Linked DNA regions of Homo sapiens: region 2 is linked to region 1. The links come from fine-mapping of genetic effects on gene expression. Tissue or cell type: blood mononuclear cells. Region 1 holds a variant in brackets; the other region holds the start of a gene. All regions are shown on one strand. Distances are from middle to middle.

Region 1 (11,059 bases):
AATTCTTCCAAACAAGGCTCAAAACAATGACTTCAGATGAAACAGGCTCAAATGCATAAACACCAGCGAAACAGAGGATTTCGAAAATCTTTGCGTGTGTGCTGCCAACAAGTTCTTTTCTGTAATTCGTGGGATTTCAGGTTTAGCTCACATTTACCCCTTTCCTCGCAAATAAAAGTTTCTGAGGCTGCAAGCCCATGGGAGGCCACTGTCAAAGGCCCCAGGGAAGATCTCTACTACCAGCAAGAGGAGAAAGAGCTCAAGGCCACACTGACAGACAGACAGACATACAAGGTACTGTAAAGCTTTCTCCCTTGTGGCCCATTCCCCTCCTGTCCGGAAATGCCTGTGCACTCTGCTGAATGACTCATCCGAGACCAGACAATAATAAAGCAATCACGTTTGTTGATTAAAAATCAGCCTATCTAGAATATAAATGTTCCTTTCAAGTAGCTCTATTACTCTATCTGTGAAGCATGTGGGAAGTCTGCTCTGTGTCATTTTTCCATTAAAACGCAGTCCTAACAGGAGAATTCCAGCTACCCTGCAACATCTGCTCCAAATTTTCCTATGATTTATGTGACCATGAGGCCAGCTCCAAGTATACATATAAATAGGTTCTGCGAGGGATCTTGTCCTATATACAAGTAAAAGTAGAAAGATTGGTATTTAATTACATCATCAAATTTGTTTTAGATCTTGGAATGTCACATTGTCAACCAGATGTCCATATATCCAAATTTATTATTTCATGTCAGTGAGACATAAGAGTGCTTTAGTTGTATATGTTCATTGTAATTAATTCTGAACATTTTACATAAGTTATTTCCATAACAACTGTGGGCAAGAGAGAAGAAGCAGATTCTAGTAACTAACTCTGCTCTATAGCTGGGGAAACTCAGTGGCCCCACAGCAACTCAAACAACCAGCCCTCAATTCTTTTGACCCTTAGCTTACTTTTTAGTGCATAGTTTCATCTCAAAGTTATAACATTTTTTAATAAAATAATAAGTAAGAGGAAATACTGTCGTATTTGATGGGGGAGGTTGCTAAATGATAATGACACTTGGATGTCAGGACATTCCATGTCAGAGTGGCCCTCTCCTTTTGCTGGGAATTTTCTGTCAGCACAGTCTGAGTACTGTGTTGGGGGTGGACTGCCAGGGCTCTGTGGTGCAAGTAAGGAGGCTGTGCCCCTATTCTAGGTAAGAGGCTGTAAGAGCTTGGATTTGGATGCTTGGGTGATGAAAGTGCAAATGAAGGACAAAGTCTTCTTCAAGGGAGATGTAGAAGGCAAAATTGAATGTACTTAAGGAGGATGAGGGTGAAGATGGTGAGAGAGGTGGCTCACAGGCTCTGGAATGGATGGTCCAACCATTCTTTAAGATAGAAAACTCTGGGAGATACTGGGAGTTAGATCAAGAGTTCAACCTTAAACAAACTGACATGGTGCTGAAACTTCAAGTGGACATGTCAACTATGAAAGTAGAGACAGGATGCTGTGCCTTACCCCCACTCACACTGGGTCAGCTCTGCTGTTTTCTGTGTGATAGGGTAGCATTTCATGTAAAGATTTGCTGTGGTTTGAATGTTTTTGTTCCTTCCAAAATCTATGTTGAAACATAATCCCCAATGCAACAGTATTGGGAGGTATGCCTTTGGGAGGTGATTAAGTCACGAGGGCTCTGCCTTCATGAATAAGATTAGATACCCTTATAAAAGGGCTTGGCAGAAGGAGTTTGCCCCTTTTGCCCTTCCGCCTTCTGCCATGCAAAGATAGCATACCTCGCCTCTGGAAGATGCAGTGCTCAAGGCACCATCTTGGGAGTGGGGAACAGCCCTCACCAGATACCAAACCTACCAGCACCTTGATCTTGGACTTCCCAGCCTCCAGAGCTGTGAGAAATACATTTCTATTGTTTATAAATTACCTAGCTTGTGGTGTTTTGTTATATTAGCACAAATAAAGTAAAACAAGTGTTTTTTTTTTAGAAAGTAGTTCTATAAGGACAAAAAATATTGAAAGAAACATGTCTGTAAGCGGTGGGAAGACACTGAAGGATTTTAACCAGGGAAATGAATTGAATGGATTTGTATTTAAGATCCACGTGGGAGCAGTGGATGAAAGAAAGTTGAGATCCTGGTTCGGCTGGCCCCTTCCTAGCTGTTTGAATTTGGGGAAATCACTAAACCCTTGTGAGCCTCGGGTTCTTCATAAGATGGAGATAGTGCTGCCTTCTTCATCTGGCTGTTATGAGAATTATAATTAAAATGCCTAGGATAATAAATGCTTAACATGCACTGGTTTCCTTCTCCATGATGGAGTACCTGCTGATAAGGTTTAACAAGTGGGGAGGGAGAGAAGCTAATTAAGAGGTTCTAGTCATCTCCCCAGAGAGGAGTGGACAACCCCTGACTTAGGGCCAGAAGACTGCAGAGTCTAGACGGCTGGGTTATGGAGTGCTGGAGTCAGGGCAGTGCGCACAAGTGTTGGGCTGGGTGACTCCAGTGGAAAGTAGTGCTGATAATCATGCTTGGAATTCAGGGGGACGGAGGGCACTTGGGGTTTGGTCAAGAGGAGGGTCCACCCTGCAGCCATTGTACACACAACCCCCATGCCCCCATTAAGACTGCAGAGCTCTCCTCCCCTTGCCTTTCCTTGTGAGCACCCTCTCTGCCCCTTTCAGCCTCTGCTGCTGCTCATGCCTCGCCACTGAGCCCCACAGCAGCCAGCTGAGCTTTCCTGTTCTCTTCCCTCCTTTCCTGTTTCATTTCCGAGGCTCTTCCAAGCCCCCGGGCTTTTCACACAAACACTTTCTTTTCCTACCTCAGAACTTGGTTTTTGCCTCTGCACAGTCAGGGTTGCTAGCTGCTCGGGTATCATTTCTTTTCTACCAAAGAAGGGAATGTTTTCTTTTTATGGGGCTCTCTCCAGGTCTGGAGCCCTGCTGGCTTCTCCACAGCTTTAGGTAACCCACAAAATCCTCAGCATTCTGGCTGCTGCCCTGGCTGTGCCTGTCTCTCCGGGCAGTGTCTTGAGTGACAGTGGGAGGAATGGGTCATGCCTGACTAATCAAAAGCCACAGCAGGCAGCATTGCCTGGACTATGGTCCTCTGACACTTCATCCAGATGATGATGCCTTCATATTTGTTAGAAACTTCATGCCTTCTTCCCAGGACCCGGCTTCCCTAGAAGTTAATCAGGCTGGTGGCCAGTGGAGTGGCTGTGGATTCAGAGCAAAGCAGTGTGGCTGGTCCCAAAAGCTCTTTCTCTGGGCCATGGTGAGACCGCTGAAAGAGCTCCACCCCACCACACAGCATGGGGAGAGCTCACAGCCAGACTATCCTTGAACCCCCCAATCTAGGCCTTTCCGCCTGAATACATGGGTCCTTTTTGCCATCCTCTCTGTTCTTTTTCTGGGTTTTTCTGGCCAAGCAATCTCTCTTTAAGTCGGTTAACTTACCTTTTGAGGCATATCTTTGCTCTCAGCCTGGGAGCTCATCTGTCTCTGGGAGATGGCTCTACCTAAACAGAAGTCTGTAGATGTTTTCTTGGGCTCACCCTTCTCAAATCATGTTGAGAAATCATGAGACATGAGAAATCATGTCTCAAAGCATTTCCAACAAAGCTTTAGCTGACTCAGAATATACAAAGATTTTTTTCCAAGTCAACTTTATTGAGGCATAATTTATGTGTAATAAAATGTATATATTTTAAGTATACAATCTGATGAGTTGTGACAAACGTGTACATCCACATAGCCGCCACGACAATCAAGACACAGAACATCTCCATCACCCCAGAATGCAACGTTTGCCATTATCCCCCCAACCCCAGCCATGAGCAAACACCCACCTGCTTCCTGTCAATATAGATGAGTTTTGCTTTGTCTAGATTTTTATGTAAATTATCATACAGTAGATATCATTTATATCTTACACTCAGCCTACGATTTTGAGATTCACCCATGTTATAGCATGTTATGGATAATTTGTTCTTTTTTTTAGCTGAGCAGTATCTCATTGTATGGAAATAAGATAATTTGTTTCTCTCTTCACTCAGTGATAGACATTTGGGCTGTTTCCAGTTTGGTGTATTACAAGTACAAATGCCTTTTCTGATTCCTGATGTAGCACCTGGAGTAAACACGTCTGTTGCCCTTAGAGAGCTTAAAGTCTTGGCAAAAAGAGACAATTTAAATGATTTAATCCTCGTGGAATTTTATTATTGGATATGATTGGGATATAATCAACTGCAGGGAGGCTTGTAGTTGTGCTGGATGCTATGGAACCGGCAGAGAATGGAAGAGTACAGGGGGCCGGGGTCACTTCAGGGCATTTTATTTTATTGGGGAATGGCATGTGAAAGCTCCATCAAATGACGCTGGATGGAGCCCTGCCCTGGGAAGCAGGCAGAGGAAGACCACAGGGGGAGCAATCCTGGCAGGTGAGAGGCTGCAAAGATGCCGCCAGACCTGGAATAGAGAGTTTGTGTTCAGCAAGTGGGACAGAAATCACGAAAAGGCCTTGAATACTGCTCAAATTGCAGGACCTGCCACTGCCATGATGAGTGCCACTCTGAAGCCCTAAAAGATGACAAGGGAGAGTAGGAGAAGCAAGCCCAGAGGAGAAAGAAAGTGGAGAATGGTCCCCAGAGGAAGGGAGGCAAACAGGGAGCAACAGCTACGCAGGTGACTGCAATGTAAGAAGCCATCCAAGAATAGACAGTGTTTCAAAATGCTCAGGAAAAAGCAAGGTGCGGTCTTCTGGATGTGGCGGCAGAAAAACCCCAAGAGAAAGACATCATCAACATAAAAGCCTGGAAAAAATAGGGATCATAAAGATGCCAGTGTGACTGACAAACAAATTAGAGGTGTTTGTCTCTCGTACTCTCCCTTATCATCTTTTAGGGCTTCAGAGTGGCACTTCTCACTGGGGCCATCTGCAAGCTGTTCTTCGGCTCAGGAGACCATGGCCCTGCTACACAGTCTCCCATTTTCACATACTTGTTTTTATTGCTGGGTAACAAATTACCTTCAACTTAGTGGCTTAAAACAATACAGTGGCTTTTTTTGTTTAATCTCACAGTTTCCATGGGTCAGGAGTCTGGACATAGAGGAGATGGGTTCTCAGCTCACAATCTCATCAGGCTGAAATCAAAGTGTTAACCAGGGCTATGTTTTCATTTGGAGCTCAGGGTTCCCGGTAATCAGAATTCAGTTCCTGCAGTTGTAGGGCTGAGGTCCCATTTTCTAGCCAATCTAGGGGCTGCGCTCAGGTCCTAGAGGGCCGTGCAGGTCCCCTCCACGGGAAGTTCACAGCATGGCTGTTTACTTTCCTTCAGGCCAGCAGGAGAGTGCCTGAATTACATCTGCAAAGTCCCTTTTGCCATACAAAGTAACATGTCACTGGAGTGACAGCCAGTCTTATTTACGGGTCCCACTTACACTCAAAGGGAGGAGATGATGCCTGCACAGCAGGGACCAGGAATCTTAGGACCCATCTTAGAATTCTGCGCATTGCACATGGTTTTTCCTTTGACTTCCTATTTCTCCATCTAGAAAGGCAGGGGCTGTGGGCTAGGTCCTCTCAGAGATTCTGCTCTGCACCAATACTCTGAGTCTGTGTTCTCCTTCATTTTATGATTAGAGTCCATTTGGAAGCACTATGCCCAATCATCTCATCCAAAATGTGCCTTGAAGATAGTGATGGGGACAGGGGCAGAGATGACTGAGAACCACTGAAGGGGTCGCAGGCCAAGGGAGGGGCAGCTGAGTAACGGGCAGGGAGGCCTGCTCCTGGAATGGATGTTTGGTG[A/C]GTCATTAGGGCTGTTCACATACATTCTGTTTCTTCTTCTGAGCAGCGGAAGTGGGATTTTACTTCCCCATCCCCTTTGCAATTCAGTATAGGCATGTGCCTGACTGTGGCTGGTGAAATCTGAGCAGGGATGATGTCTATCATTCTGAGCTGAAGTTTTAAGAGCCCGTGTGTGTGTGTGTGTGTGTGTGTGTGTGTGAGTGTGTGTGTTGTCTCAACTCCCTTGTCCTCTGCTATAGTGACTAGCAGTTTGAGACGGTGGCTGCTTCATTATCCTGGGTCCCTGAAGGGATGCAGAACAGAACTCCAGCCAACCCGAAATGGACTTGTGGCACAGATGACAGAAATAAATCTTTGTTGTTTAAAGCCCCTAAGATTTAGGATTGTTTGTTACTGCAGCATCACCTAGCCTATCCTGGCTGGTACAAAAAGGACAGTATCACAGTTATTCTGGCTGCCACCTTCTCTTTTTCTCCGGAAACTCTTATCTGAGCCAGGTCTTTGATGCAGTGGCTTCTCAAAGATATAGCCATAGGGTTCAATCTTGATGAAAAGTGACTGTGTTGCTCTATAGTCATGTATCTTCCGTCATTCAAACTGAGCTACTCACCTGCTTGCTGAGAGAAGATGCTCTCCCACACCCTGGGCCCTCAGCCCTCATGATAAATAAATAATTTTTGTTTGAGAACAAATAAGAGTAATTAGCACATTCAGGGAAAACTGCCAGTCAAACCTGACTTGGACATGCTTTGATGTAGTTTACTTGTCATCTTGTTCTGAAAAATCTCAATTACCTGCAACCTGCCATTCCCGCTCTTTTCTTTTCCTACACCTCTAATTTGTTTGTCAGTCACACAGGCATCTTTATGATCCCTATTTTTTCCAGGCTTTTATGTTGATGATGTCTTTCTCTTGGGGTCTTTTCTGCCACCACATCCAGAAGACTGCACCTTGCTTTTTCCTGAGCATTTTGAAACTCTGTCCGTTCTTGGATGCTTCTCACATTGCAGTCACCTGTGTAACTGTTGCTCCCTGTTTGCCTCCCTTCCTCTGGGGACCATTCTCCACTTTCTTTCTTCTCTGGGCTTGCTTCTCCTACTCTCCCTTATCATCTTTTAGGGCTTCAGAGTGGCACTTCTCACTGGGGCCATCTGCAAGCTGTTCTTTGGCTCAGGAGACCATTGCCCCTGCTCCACAGTCTCCCGATGAGGGAGGATGCTGGCAGAGGTTGGCTGCCACTCAATTACCCAGACTCATTCCAAAGACCACGCAAATTTTTGTCCAGAGGGATGGTGACTGCCAGGGGGACCGATAGAGGGTACACAGGCATAGATCACCCTCAAGCAGAGACTACAACTGGTTAGGACTATGAGAAGAAATTATGCACAAGAGCGTGTCATAGTGTAAATTATGCCATGGTTTAAAGAGGAAATAAGACACAGAGAGAATCTGGCAATTATAATAATAATAATAACTAACAGTTAATGAGCACTTTCCATGACCCAAGCACAGCGTAGACACTTCCTATGGATTATCTCCTGCAGTCTTCATATTTCCTGTTGGGTAACACTAGTCTCATGCCCACAATTCGGATGAGGAAGCAGGGGCTCAGAAAGTTAAAGCAGTTCACCTAAGGTACACAGCAAGTAAGCAGAGAACTGGGATAGGGTCCCAGACAGCTGGCTTCAAAGTCCATGCTTCTACCCAGGCAAAGGGAAGAAAGAACTACACTGGCCAGAGGAGCTACCCCCTAGTTGCCAGTGTCCATGATGATTCCCTTGTGAGGAGGCCCCCCAGTCCAGATCCTTCCCATCCCACCTACCTGGAACTCGCTTCCAGCTGATTGGCTACAGGGCTCTGCCACATGATGCAAACTGGAAAAGGCCCTGTTTGAACTCTTCCCCTGCAAGAGTTCAGGCCCACAGGTTCTGGTGTGGGCTTGCTCAGCTGGAGGTAGCCTGAGGTGAGCTGGAGTTTACAGCCCTGGCTGCAGGCATCCTGCCGGGTTGGACTGCCTTGCTTTTCAGAGTAGGGGGAATTGAATTATTATTGCATCAACTCCTCCGACACTCTGAGAACTATGGCCTCCCTCATTCCTTCCTCTGTGGCTTTTCTCTGCCCATAAATGAAAAGCAGATTGCCTCACTGGTGCTGGATGCTCAGAGCAGAACCGCATCCTAGGTGTGGAAGAGCAGAAATGTTTCTCACCATCTGTTTCTCGTTGACTTCAGTGGGGCCATGCTTAGACAATGGGGCAGTATGCAGCCTGCATGGGGTGTGGCCCCACAGGGTGACCCCATGGCCTGCTGGCTGGCAGGCTGGGGAGTGGCCCTCCTCTGCCTTGAAGGCCAAGAGGCTGGGGAGCTTGTGTTTCCTAGAGTGTGGGGGTGGTTTCCCCCTCATTTGGCCGTTTCTTCTTCCTTTTCTTTCTAGAAAGATGGATTTCAGCTGTTTTCCCAAGACTCATAGTAACCTCCTAGTAAAGTCGATATTTACTGTGTGTGTGTCTGTGTGTGTCTGCCTGTGTGTGTGTTATGAACAGTGTAAATGTATTCTACGTTTAATGCAGAAAACCTAGAAGAATGAAAAGAAGCAAAAAGTAACAGCCCCATTATCAAGATTTTTTTTTGATGTGTTCTGTCAGTGGTCTATTTTTCTTGATTATTTTTTAGCATCATTAAAAAAAAATATCGGGACCTAATGCACGCTGCTGAGTTAGGCAGTATTCTAAGTACTTCGCAGGGGATAATTTCAGGTTGCATATAGTACAACCCTATGAGTAAATAATTTCATTAACAGCATTTTTACAAATGAAGACACTGCAGTTAAGAGGGGCAGGAGCTCCGCTCAAGATCACCCAGGAAGGTGTGGTGGGACCAGGACTCAGGACTCAGTTGCAGGTTGGGTAACTCCAAATTTCACAGCTCATAACTACCTCCACCGTACACACTATACATGAAATGCAAGGCAGTTTGTGTCCTGTTTTTCACTAAGCAGTAGATGGGGACTATTCAACCAATAGTCCTGTATGCATGATTTTAACAGCTGCGTATATCTCATTACATAGATTTAGCTGAACCTGTTTAGCCAATCCCCTGACTTTGGGTTGTTCCAAATGTTGTCATTATAATGCTGAGATGATCATTCAATACAGATACCCTTAAGGCTATATCCATTGATTTGCCAGTAGTGGAATTTGAGCTAATAGACATGCATGATACTTTAAGAAGTTTTGAAAGATGAGGGAAATTGCCTTTAAGAAAAGTTTTACTCTTTGCAACACTAAGCATTATAATCTTTCATTTACGAAAATAGCAAAGAAGATTTTTTTAAATGCATGATTCCTTTTTATACCTTTCATTTTTTTTAGTGATCCAAATAGGAAACTTTTTCATTCATTGTCAATTTTAACTTAACCTTCTGTAAACTCAATGTTCATGCTCTTCACACAATGTAATTTATTAGGTAATTTATTTTTACGTTGATTTGCAAAAGCCTTTTACATTAAGGATGTTGATCCTTTGCCACCTGTGTTGCAAACATGTCTCTCGGTTTGTTATCTGCCTTCTTATCTTGCTTATGATGTTTTGTATTTTTGTGAAATAGAGGTTCAAAAATGCTATGCAGCTAATCTATCAATCTTTTTCTTGGTACTTTCTTCCTACAGTATTTTATTTTTTAAAGTTTTTTTTCTGTCTTACCTAAAATATTAAGTAAACCTTAGCATTAAATACAGATATTGTCCTATTGTTTAAAATTGAAGTTGCGGTTATTTTATTTTCTAGCACAACAATTACAGAAAGTATTTATATTCATTTTTGGTCATTTTTGTTTATTAATTTTTAAACCACAATCTTCTGAATATATACATCAAGAATAGCAGGTAAGAAATGAATGTACCACCCTGCTCCCTTTTTCCCCAGGTTGGGTGTCACTCACTGACCCCTGCATTCTCTCCCGCAGAGCTCAGAAGGGGCTCAGAATCTTGCTCAATACAGTAATCCTCAATGCCACAATCCTCAACACAGGTACTCCTACAAATTGAGACCCATAGGTCTCATCATCCTTTATGTTTAACAATCATTAAGAAAGACCTACACTGCGTAATAGCTTTGGTGGCCATCCGTCATTGCAGGTGATACTTCCTAAATTGTAGGGTGAAAGATATGGCATAAGAAATTAATTTCTTGGTCTTCTTATAAAATTTCAGAAGCCAAGGACAGCTTAGGGAAATAGCAAAGGGCTAAGCATAAAATCTCAGAATTCTCTGATAACACAGTCCAACTGGACTTTTGAATTTGGGATCTATGCTCCATAAAAGAAGAGCTGCATATCCAGAATTCCCTTTTTGTTGTTGTTGTTTTTTGTTTTCGTTTTTGTTTTTTTGAGACAGAGTCTCGCTCTGTTGCCCAGGCTGGAGCACAGTGGCGTGATCTCGGCTCACTGCAAGCTCTGCCTCCCGGGTTCACGCCATTCTCCTGCCTCAGCGTCCCAAGTAGCTGGGACTACAGGTGCCCGCCACCAGGCCAGGCTAATTTTTTTTTGTATTTTTAGTAGAGATGGGGTTTCACGGTGTTAGCCAGGATGGTCTCGATCTTGTGACCTGGTGATCCACCTGCCTCAGCCTCCCAAAGTGCTGGGATTACAGGCGTGAGCCACTGCGCCCGGCCTGTGTTCTTCAAGTTTATTACCTCAGTCACTAGTATAAGTCTATTTCAAGTCCTTGAATGTCTAAGAATGTCTGTCTGTTGCCTTCATAAGGCTGCAAAATTACTGGATCCTAACTTTCTTCCTTCAAAACTTTCTAAAGCCTGCTCTATACAGGGTGGCAAAGGACAAGTCTGAAGCCAACCAATTTTGTAAACTTTGAAAGAGGTATTTTTTTTCCCTCAATGCTCATGACATGAAAACAAATTAGTCTTATAATTCAAATATGTTGCTAGAATGTGTTTTAGCCCCTGTGACACAGTGAGGCCTCTCTGTCAGGGATCCCCTAGGCCACAGGTCCATCGCTGTTTGGAAACCCACTAAAATGACTCACAAAACTCAGCTTAAAGTGTACTCAGCTTAAAGTGTACTCATAGCCAAGATTTATTACAGCAGTGTTGTAAGGATATATGAGTGGCTCATGAAGGGAAAAGGCACAGGCAGTCTGGAGGAATTCATGTGCAGGTTTCCTCATGCTCTCTCTCACCCATTAGGAGTCACGCACAGCTTACTCTTCACCAGTGAGAAAAATGAA
Region 2 (9,800 bases), 29 kb after region 1:
GGCTGGGGTGGCAGCTGATGTCAGACTGGCTGGAGGCTGTGGGTGGTGAGAGGTAAGGCAGTGGGGAGCTGGAGTATTTGAGTAGCAAAAGAGGGAACAGAAGCATCTAGGAGAGATTTGGAAAGAACACCTGCAGGATCTTGGTGACTGATTGCACGTGGGGGACCAGAGAGCAGGGACAGGCAAAACTGAATGCAAGGTTTCCAACCTTGAGCGGCACCACAGGCAAGAATGAAGAAATGAAGAAGGGGAGCTGGACGAAAGAGCCAAGGGATTTCTGCATTTTGGAATGAATTGCTGCTGGGTGGTGTCCATTTCCCTGAAGGCCTTTATCCTACGTGCAAGAAAACTCGTGGGAAGCAGAGGAAAGGCATGTGTAAGCCAACAATCATCTGTGGGCATCCTTCCACTAAAGTATTTGAGGTCAGGCAACTAAAGCAACCTCAAAAGTGCCTCTGGATTCTTCTTAGATATTTTAGCTGAGCCAAATCAATGAAACTCTCATGAAAAATCGGTTTCCCTGGAAAATGAAATTGGGTTCTAACCAACAAGTAGCATTTGGCAGGCCCTGATTAAGAAAGCCAGTGTTTGGAGAAGTTGTGAAAACAGCCAAGTCATTTAAGAAACTAAACACTGGGGCCTAATGCCATTCTAGGGCTGCGACGGCTGTTCTGTTCCCATCAATTGCAGAGCCCGAAGCCTCAAGTTTGTTTTAAGTTCCTGCCATTACAAACCTGTCGATTATCCCAGCCTCCCTTGCGGGCTTTGAAAAGAGAGAAGAATGGAAGGTGACTGTGGCCAATTTCCCCTCCCTGTCCAGTGTGTGGAAGACACTGAATATGCAACTACTGACCTTGTGCCTGGGCATCTTGAAGGTCTTCCACAAAGTGAGCTGGGCCTCAGCGGAAGATGAGAGTTCCTCTGTGGTCACTTCACTGGTACACATTTTCAGGTGTATTTCGTTTCTTCCATGCCTACATAAATTGAATCCTCTGTTAACCACCTCTGAGCTCATAGCTATTTAACATGACCCTGTAGTCCTGTGCATACAAATCACCTTGGGATCTGGTGAAAATGCAGATTCAGTGGGTCTTGGGAGGTTGGGAGGTTATAAGATTCCACGTTTCTTCATGAGAGCTAGAAAAAATAAATAAATAAATAAAAAATTTTTAAATTTTCCACATTTCTAATGAACTCTGGGGTTGTGCTGATGATGCTGTTTTGCAGATCACATTTTGAGTGGCAAGACTGTGGAAAATCCTTGAGAAATCAATCCAAAATCCCCTAAATGGTACTACAATCACACCTTAATGTTAGTAAACTGAGATGTTTCTTACCTTTATTTGTAACATGGAAAAAACAATTACTGTATATGAAGTACCATTCTAAGTTCTGTGTGTTACACAAGGGATGGCAATTTTCCCCAAAATTTGATTCACATCTTTTCATTTGGATATCTCTTGCCAAAACTCACCTTTTTTTCTCCCTAGCAAGTCTTGGGGAGCTGAATTTTAAGAGCTCTTTATTTAGCTATATGGTGGCCTCTGAAAATGATTTTGACTGTATCTTCTGTCTCCATGTATGCCCAAGCATCACCAGGAACTTTAGGGAGTAAGGAAAAGGCAGGCCTGGTGTCAGCTGGGCTGCAGATGCCAGCTCTCCCACCAACAGGCCCAGAACCAGTTTCTTTCCTAGGTTCCTTTGTGAAGAACTTGTTGGAACTACTAATTTATCATGATGCATAAAGCTTGTTGTCATACCCTACAGTATTATTTTCAAAACCTGAATGTTTTTGGTGACCTTTCATGTGCCACAAAATGTAAAAGCAGTCATTTTTTAAAAAGTGCTTGAAAAAGTCTAGTAAAGATTCTTCCAAGCAAGCCTCACTTTCTCCTGTTTAGATTGTTTAATCTGGAAGGAAAAAATTCTTTCTCAAATGACAGGGTTTCTGGTGCTCTGTGTTTGCCTGGTTGGCTCTGGGTCATCTGGGGATGGAGGGTCCCTGCTCTTACCTCCAGCAGCATCACTCTTGTCTCCAAAGAAGCAGCAACCTCAGGTGGGAGAATGGTTATACTCACAGCATTCTGCTTTTCATGTTTGAAAGAGGGGATGGGTGGTGGGGCATGGATGTGGGATTTTAAAAAAATATCTAAACCATAAATAAAGTATTACTGCAATCTCTTTACTGAGCTCATGGAAAAACTCAAGTCATCGAATGTTAGTTTTGCAGACTGGAGAAGTGAGGTCCAGTGAACTTGCTTGACTTGCCCTAAATCTTGCTAGAGAGAGAGCTGGAACCAGATGGCAGGGCTCCTGGCCTCTTACATACAAGGAGCATTTTTCCTAGAAACTGCAATGCAGCCAAATTCTACTGGTCTCAGGGGAAACTTGTTCTGGGAGTCAGCCTGAGCTTGAATCCCTTTGGGTTCTTCCCATTATCCTATGCCAAGCAGTCATGCTGAAACCGAGAAATGTTTTGCTTTCAATAAATGAAATGAGCATTTTCAGATAATTATTTCTGTAGTTGCTCAAAACTATCATATTGTTTCATTGAACCCTACTATATAGAACAATGACTGGGGAGAGGTAATAATAATAATAGCAATGCATATTTATTGGCCATTTTACTTGAATTGTATCATGTAATCTAGTTTAGAGTCCTGTGAGGTAGGTTTTATTATCCTCTCTATGAGGTTGAATAACTTGCCCAAGACCACACAGCTAGGAAGTAGAAAGACTGGTATTTGAACCCATCTTCTCCTTTTCTTCTCCTTCCTCCTCCTCCTCTCTTCCAACACCTGCTCCCAAGGAAGCTCATCCAGTGCATGACTTTAGCTACCACCTGCTCGTAGTGGTGACTCAAATCTGCATCTCCAATCCTCATACCTATCCTGAGCTCAAGACCTTTGAATATAGCTCCCTCCTGTCCATCCCTCCTGGAAATGCAGGTGGCTTGTTCACACATAATGTGAACACAAATGGAGCACTCTCCTCACACACCCAAATGTGCACCTTCACCAGCGTGCCCAGCACAGGCATCCCTTCCTGCCAGCTATGAGCCTCGAGGTTAGCTCTACTCCCCCTCCCTAACCCTGCATGCCCAAGGGGTTTCCAAGTCTAATCAATGCTACCACTAAAATCTCCCATACACCTGTTCCCTCCTCTCCACTAGCTTGATCACTCCCCATGCAGGCCCTCAGTTGCTTTATGCTCTCAGTAGGCCCTCCTCCAGTGCCCACACTCTCTCCCTTCTCCTTCCCACCTTCTTTCTACCAGAGTTCTAACCTCTCCAAGCCCCGCTTGTCTTTTTCTTTCCCTGGCTGCCATCCTAACTCGCCCCTTCCCTTCTCAGACAAGCTTCTACATGCTACTCATCTCTCCATCAAACCACCATATTCGGGCTTTGGCCATCTGCTCTCCACAGCCAAGTCCCCAGTGGCCTCTCTGCTTCTGACACAGTGAAAGCCATTCAGATCTGTCTTGTTGGCAGCATTCCTCACTTTGAGCAGCGCCCTCCTACTAGGATACCCCTCCTTGACTACAACCCCACATTCTCTACTTCCTGGGCTCTTCTGTCACTGGAGGATGACTCCCAGGTGTGAATCTTCATCCCGCGTCCCTCACTCAAGCCCCCGATCCTCATATCCAGCTTTATCCTCATGGGATGCTTCACCAGGATGAGTCATAAGCACCTCAGACTCAGGGTGTCCCAAACCACTCATCTACCTGGCAAGCCTGCACTCTGCATGTGCCTCATTCTGAACATGGCACCATCACCTGCTGCAATGTCCAGACCACAAACACCCTACAATATCCTTGACTCTCCTTTCTCCCCTTCTCCCTGTATACAGACTCCAAATTCTATTGAGACTATTACCTCCTACACCCCTCACATTTGCCCAGCCTTCCCCATCTCTGCCTCTACCACCATAGTTCAAGCTCTCCCATGGTCCCTTCCTGGTTACCTGTTCTTCTTGCCTCCTTAAGCCTCTCATGACACTGGCCATGTCACTTGCCTCCACCCATCACCCGCTAGGCTCTTAGCTGGAGTCTGGGCCCTGCTACCTTCCTCCCCTTCTTCCCTACCCTTGACTCCACCTCCCTGTGCTTCAGCCAACCAGATAACTTGAGTTTCGTGAATGCATGCCTCAGTTTACCTGATTAACTCATTTTCATCTTTCAGGCCTCAGAGCAGGTATCACCCTGTCAGGGCCAGGTGCCTCTTCTTAGCTCCCAAAGCCCCAGCTACTCTTCATGGAACATCATTGGCTTGGGCTACGGATCTTCCCAAATTGGAGCTTTTTCACAAAGGGCTTAGGTCTCACTCATTCTATTAATCCATCTGTGTCTCCCCAGGGCTAGCAGTGCCAAGTAACTGACAGGTGATTAATAGATGCTTGGGTAAGTATCACCTCTTTACCATGTGACAATTTGTTTACCTGCCTTGAGCTCCTCCAGGGCAGGACTCTTGCCTTTGCAGAATCTATCTGGCAGGTACTGTTGCAGAGATGTTTACTGAAGAAGGGAATGAATTAGTACCAAGGTGAGGACCCCACCCTTCCCCACGGGCTCCAAAAGCAGCTTAGAGCCCAACAAAACCTGCCCCACATTTTTGGCGTTTCTGTGGATCACACGATTTACTCATCTGTCTTTCAATGAGCATGACAGGTGGGGTGGGGGTGGAGGGATTAGAGATTGAGGAGCTGGGGAGGGTGGTCAGCTCCTGGGGTGCAGAAACAAGTCTGATGGGCCATGGTGTTCTGGGAATCAGCACTGCCTCCCCTCACCCCTCCCTGCAGTGTTTTGTAGCCTCAAGATCAGTGAGGGAATCTTCGGGCCCCCAGCATGCAGGACCGAAGCCCCCGAGACAGCTGTCCCTCAGTCCCAAGGTCCCCATTTGGAAGCAGCCACAGGAGGCCTAAGGGACCTATACCCTTGGTTTGAGGAAGACTGTGGCGAGGGAGAGAGGGAGGGAGGGCTGGCAGTGAGGGCAAGGGCTGGGAAAACTGAGCACGGGCACAGTGCGGGAGCGGGTGGGTGCCCAGGGCAGCCAGGGGCGCACGGGTTGGGAGGCGCCAGGCGGCCCGCCCTCCTTGCACGGGCCGGCCCAGCTTCCCCGCCCCTGGCGTCCGCTCCCTCCCGCTCGCAGCTTACTTAACCTGGCCCGGGCGGCGGAGGCGCTCTCACTTCCCTGGAGCCGCCCGCTTGCCCGTCGGTCGCTAGCTCGCTCGGTGCGCGTCGTCCCGCTCCATGGCGCTCTTCGTGCGGCTGCTGGCTCTCGCCCTGGCTCTGGCCCTGGGCCCCGCCGCGACCCTGGCGGGTCCCGCCAAGTCGCCCTACCAGCTGGTGCTGCAGCACAGCAGGCTCCGGGGCCGCCAGCACGGGTAAGCCGAGCCGCCTGGCCAGGGGCTGCGGAAGGTCAGGTAGTCGGGGCTCGGAGCGCAAGCCGCTGGGGGCATTGAACTGGGCTGGGGGCGCAGGGGACAAAGCCCGAACTAAAAACCTTGCAGCATGGAGCGCTCGGACACCAGCCCTGCACGCGGTGGAAGGAGAGAGGGAGGGAGGTGGAGGACCATGGAGGGAAAGCGGGAGGCCGCCGCTTTGTAGAAGGGAGTGGGGAAGTGGACCAGAGACTTTCGACGCAGGCCAAGAGCCTGAGACGGACAGCGCTTTCAGCTTCTCCTCCCAGCCACTGCAGAAAGGGGGAAATGGCAACTCTTTGGCCATAATCACCGTGGGAGGGTGCCAAGGGCAAAGCCCACCCAGCAGTACACCTATTCCAACCCAGCCAGGCCCCCGGCCAGCGACTCCAGACAAGAACCTGGGCCACACACGGTGGCAGCATCTAAGGTGCCCCAGGCTCCTGTGCTCCTGGCCAGGCCCTGCACTCAGACACTGCTGGCACCCGACACTGCTCTCTGGGTACAGCAAGGGCAATGTGGCACTTCTTGTCCTGCCCGATGAAGAGCAGGAGAATGCACTGGGCCCTCACACACACTGTTCAAATGGGGAAACTGAGTCCTGAGTGGTTCCACTTTCCCACAGTCCTGAAGTGTGCACTGGAGCCAGGATTGGAGTCTGTCTTAAAGTAATAGCTGGGTTTGTAAATGTAGGACACTATCATTGCAGGAATTCCTTTGAGACCCTGAAGATGTGTTGGCTTTAGGAGACAAACTCAAGCAGAAGGTCTGGTCTGATAGTGGCCCTAATACTGACCCAGGCAGAGGCAGGCAACATTTCTACCTCAAAAACCAGGCCATACCTGCGTCACAAATACCCAGGCTTTGCTGCAGCTTCCAGCCTACCTGGTTGCACCAACTTCTTTTTCATAACTAGGTAAAACTATATATGAGTAGAATCTTGTAGTGACTCCTCAGAGGAAGCCTAAATACCATCGGGGTCTGGCGTTCACACCCACAAGCAATGCCCAAACCTCCAAGAGACTGGGCAGATCTGTGCTCAAATCAAAACTCATTGTTGGGGGTGATAGAGTTGACTTCACAGGCCCTGAAAGTCTTGGCTCCTTGCACTAGGAGTGCTCTGGGTACGGGTACAGGCTGCCCCTTGTAGGGCATAGTTGCTCTTGTTTCCTCTACTTGTGGCTTTATGGTCTAGGCCTTTCAGGAGTTTGGGGCTCTGGCGGAGAGGGCCTGCTGGGAGCACATCTGGCCACCCTGCAGAGTGAAATCAAACCAGGCCTGGCTGCAACCTCAACACCCTCCTGGAAAGAGGAGAATACTGGGGATATCCTGGGGTCTTTCTGGAAGTGGGAGAATCAGCTTTGACTTGGGCAGTGTGCAGAATAGAGTGAGGGGGGATGTCAGAAAGATGAGAGGGATATGAGGCCTCAACATCAAAATGCAAGCACCTGGCATTTTTATTATCTCTGCCCACCTCTCCGTTGGTCTCTCTGCCTTTCCTGCCAATGAATTGTGTTATGTTTGGGTGCCTCAATTTGCCTAGGAGGGTTCTATTTCTTCTGTATCTTCGCCACTAAGTCAGGAGAAGATCCTTATAGCATGCCCTGCAACAGTGTCACCTGTAAGGGCATCTCTCTGCACAGCCACAGTGAAGGATCCTCAAAGGTATTGAGGGCTTTCCATCAAGAGCCATCTTTACAGCAAACCTCTTTCCCTTCAGAGCCCAGAAGAGTGCTGACCAGCTGGAAAACAGGGTTTTTTTCTTAAATGCAGATGCTCTTGATTATGAGTTCCAGATATTAGATCAACTTCCCCACCATACCCCTGCAGGCAAAGCCTCTTAATTAGCTTCCTGCAGCACAGCTGGAAAGGCCTATTGTAATCTGTGATGGGCAGAGTAATCTAAGAAGTCACAGGAGCACCCCTGTCCCAGTAGAATCTGGATGCGCAGGCACATGAACCATGGCAAAATGGTTGCAGGCACAGTTGTATTTACTCTGATCTAACTGTCCCTGTTAATGCCACAGGGCTGCCTGGCCTGGCACACAGGGCTGTGGCGCCTTGTGCAAATGGATAACGTTGTTCTAGCTCCAGCCTTTCATTCAAAGTGAAAACTGTTAGAAAGGGAAGGAAAACTTTGCTATTTTAAGGAATTGTAGCGTGCTGCCTGATATGAAGGAAGAAATAACAGCTGTGCCTTGCTTGTGCGCAGCACTCGATTGCCGCTTTTGCTTTCGACCTCACCACAACACAGTGAGATCTACTGTTCATGTTCCCATTTTACAGGAGGTGAAACTGCAGCTTAGTGAGGTAGAGAGTGACTTAGTTCAGACACAGAATGCTGTTGGGAGAGTAATAACTATGATATGGTCTCTTGACTCCCAGCTATATCTGTGTTGCTATAGGGAAGGGGAAAAATAATACTGAAAGAGAAGTAAAAATACAATCACACTTCCAAACATCAACCACCAAAAACTGAACTGAATTTCCTGAAGCACTTGGTTTTCAAATCTAAGCTGAACATCAATGCTGTTATTCTTGAGGCCCAGAAGCAACTTGCTCATTTCAATTAAGCTTCAGCATGAACTTCCTATGTACACAGCCCACCCACACTCCCCGATGTGAGAAGGAGAGGGTCACAGCCGCCCCCAGCCTCTGCTGCTGCCACAAGGACAGCAGCAGTGGAAACATTCAGCAAAGGAATGTTGGAGCCACATCCACAAGAGACTCACTGAAGATTCGCCAAACGCCTACGGAAAGTGGCAGGGAATTCATTGACAGTAATTGTTTCCTGCTTGATCAGATTGAAGAGCTTCTGGGATTCTGTAACAATAAATAGGACCGGGGGCTGGAGTATGGCCAGCAAGGACTCTTCAGGGGTTATTCAGGGACTGTCTAACCTGTGAATCCTAGGCAGCAAACAGAAACCAGGTATTCAGAAATCTGGAGGATTTGGTCAGGCCCAGCTAGGACTAGGGAGGCATGGGCCTCTGCTGGCTGTGGTCCCTTCTCCAGCCTTCACTTCTCTTGTCCCTAGATCCTTACATGGATTCATTAATGCTCATTGTCCCTCCTGGGCCCACTCACTTTCACCTGTTGAACAAAAAACTGGCCAAGAGGTGACAGTCATATCACCGCAGAAGAGACAGGGCAGAGAAATGAAGGGGCAGAATGGACTCCCACCCAAAAGCCTGACTCTGAATATTTGAGAATTGTTCAAGTTCCTGCAGAGGAATCATGATGGGGACAGTAGGTGTAGTTTTTACTGCAATATTGGTGTCTTCTTAACAAATACGCTGCACATCAAGTGATGTCTGTGGATGGCATTCTTAAAGTAACAGGGAAATTGATGTTAAAGAAATACTTCATCCTTTGGGTGATACCTGAAGTTCTCTGAGCTTGGAGGTCTTGTGAAAGCCCTCAGTATTGTTTGTTTTATTTGCTTTCCTCTGACTTGTGATTCAGTCAGATGCATGCCTGCCTCTGGCTCAGGAAGATCAACCCTCTCCTGACTGACCACGCCTCTCCTGACTGACCACGTAGCACAGCAGCTTCCTTTCCCTAGGGGCTCCTAATGAAGCTTTCACAATCACCTGGCCTGAGCACAGTTTGGGTCAGGACTTGGTATACTTGAAAAAAACATGCAAAACCAAAATCCTGTGGTTCTGGAAAAGGCTTCTTAGCAGAACCCCCAGACATTTACACTCTGCTTTTTCACAGGGTCCCTGAGGATTCTTTGGATCTGGGTAGTTTGGGGAGCAGTATTTTCAACAAGTTCATTTCGTGCTCCTTCTACACCCTGCCTGGATGCTAGGCCCCATCTAGAATGTGAACAACAGAACAAGGCAGAACACTTGTCCTCAAGGTTCTGTTGAGTGTTAGATGCAGAGAAGAGACACCCCCCACCTCCCCGCATCACTTACAGGAATTCTGTTTGGAACCCAACATCAAATAAGGACCGTATCCACTGTCAGAGGATGGGAAGCAGCATGTCATCTGGGACATTGGAGAAAGGCTCCTGGGGGAAGTGGGACTTGAGCTGTGATCTAAGTAATGAACAACTGAGAGTTAAATGGGAGAGCATCCCCTATCAGGGTCCTGAGAGCAACCAGCCATGGTTTAAACCAGCTATAAAGCCTCGGGTTTATAGGATAGACAGTAACAATGGCTTGTCTTTGGGAGCCAAGCAGCTGGTCCAGGCATGCAGAGCATGTCTGTATGGAGAGCTGCCTGAGAGATGCTTTTGTTTACACTTATCAATTGCCCATGTCAAAGAAGGATATGTACATGAAGTTACATCAGTATGTAAGAGAGATTTTAACAATTTTTGCAGGGGAAGCTTTCATGGGGGCTGATGGGAATCTAGGTAAACAGAACCAA

The links. PIP is the estimated chance that this variant, and not a neighbour inherited with it, causes the effect.
Region 2: TGFBI starts here. The variant in region 1 is fine-mapped to the expression of TGFBI in blood mononuclear cells (TOPMed, PIP above 0.99). The same link has a PIP of 0.9 or more in T cells, monocytes and whole blood.

The regions. Positions count from the first base shown.
Region 1 is chr5:135,993,723-136,004,781 of GRCh38, forward strand. No RefSeq gene overlaps it. Among named protein-coding and RNA genes, the nearest start is that of TGFBI, 30 kb to the right of the region's middle. RefSeq lists an enhancer at 7,644-8,145. The variant A/C (reference allele first, on the strand shown) is at 5,818.
Region 2 is chr5:136,023,806-136,033,605 of GRCh38, forward strand. TGFBI (transforming growth factor beta induced) reads left to right here and starts at 5,183. Exons shown (of 17, transcript NM_000358.3): 1 at 5,183-5,384. The coding sequence starts at 5,251. It overlaps LOC105379189 (a long non-coding RNA gene), which reads right to left and starts at 2,088. Exons shown (of 4, transcript XR_948809.3): 1 at 2,013-2,088; 2 at 1,058-1,137; 3 at 854-974. RefSeq lists an enhancer at 7,400-7,469.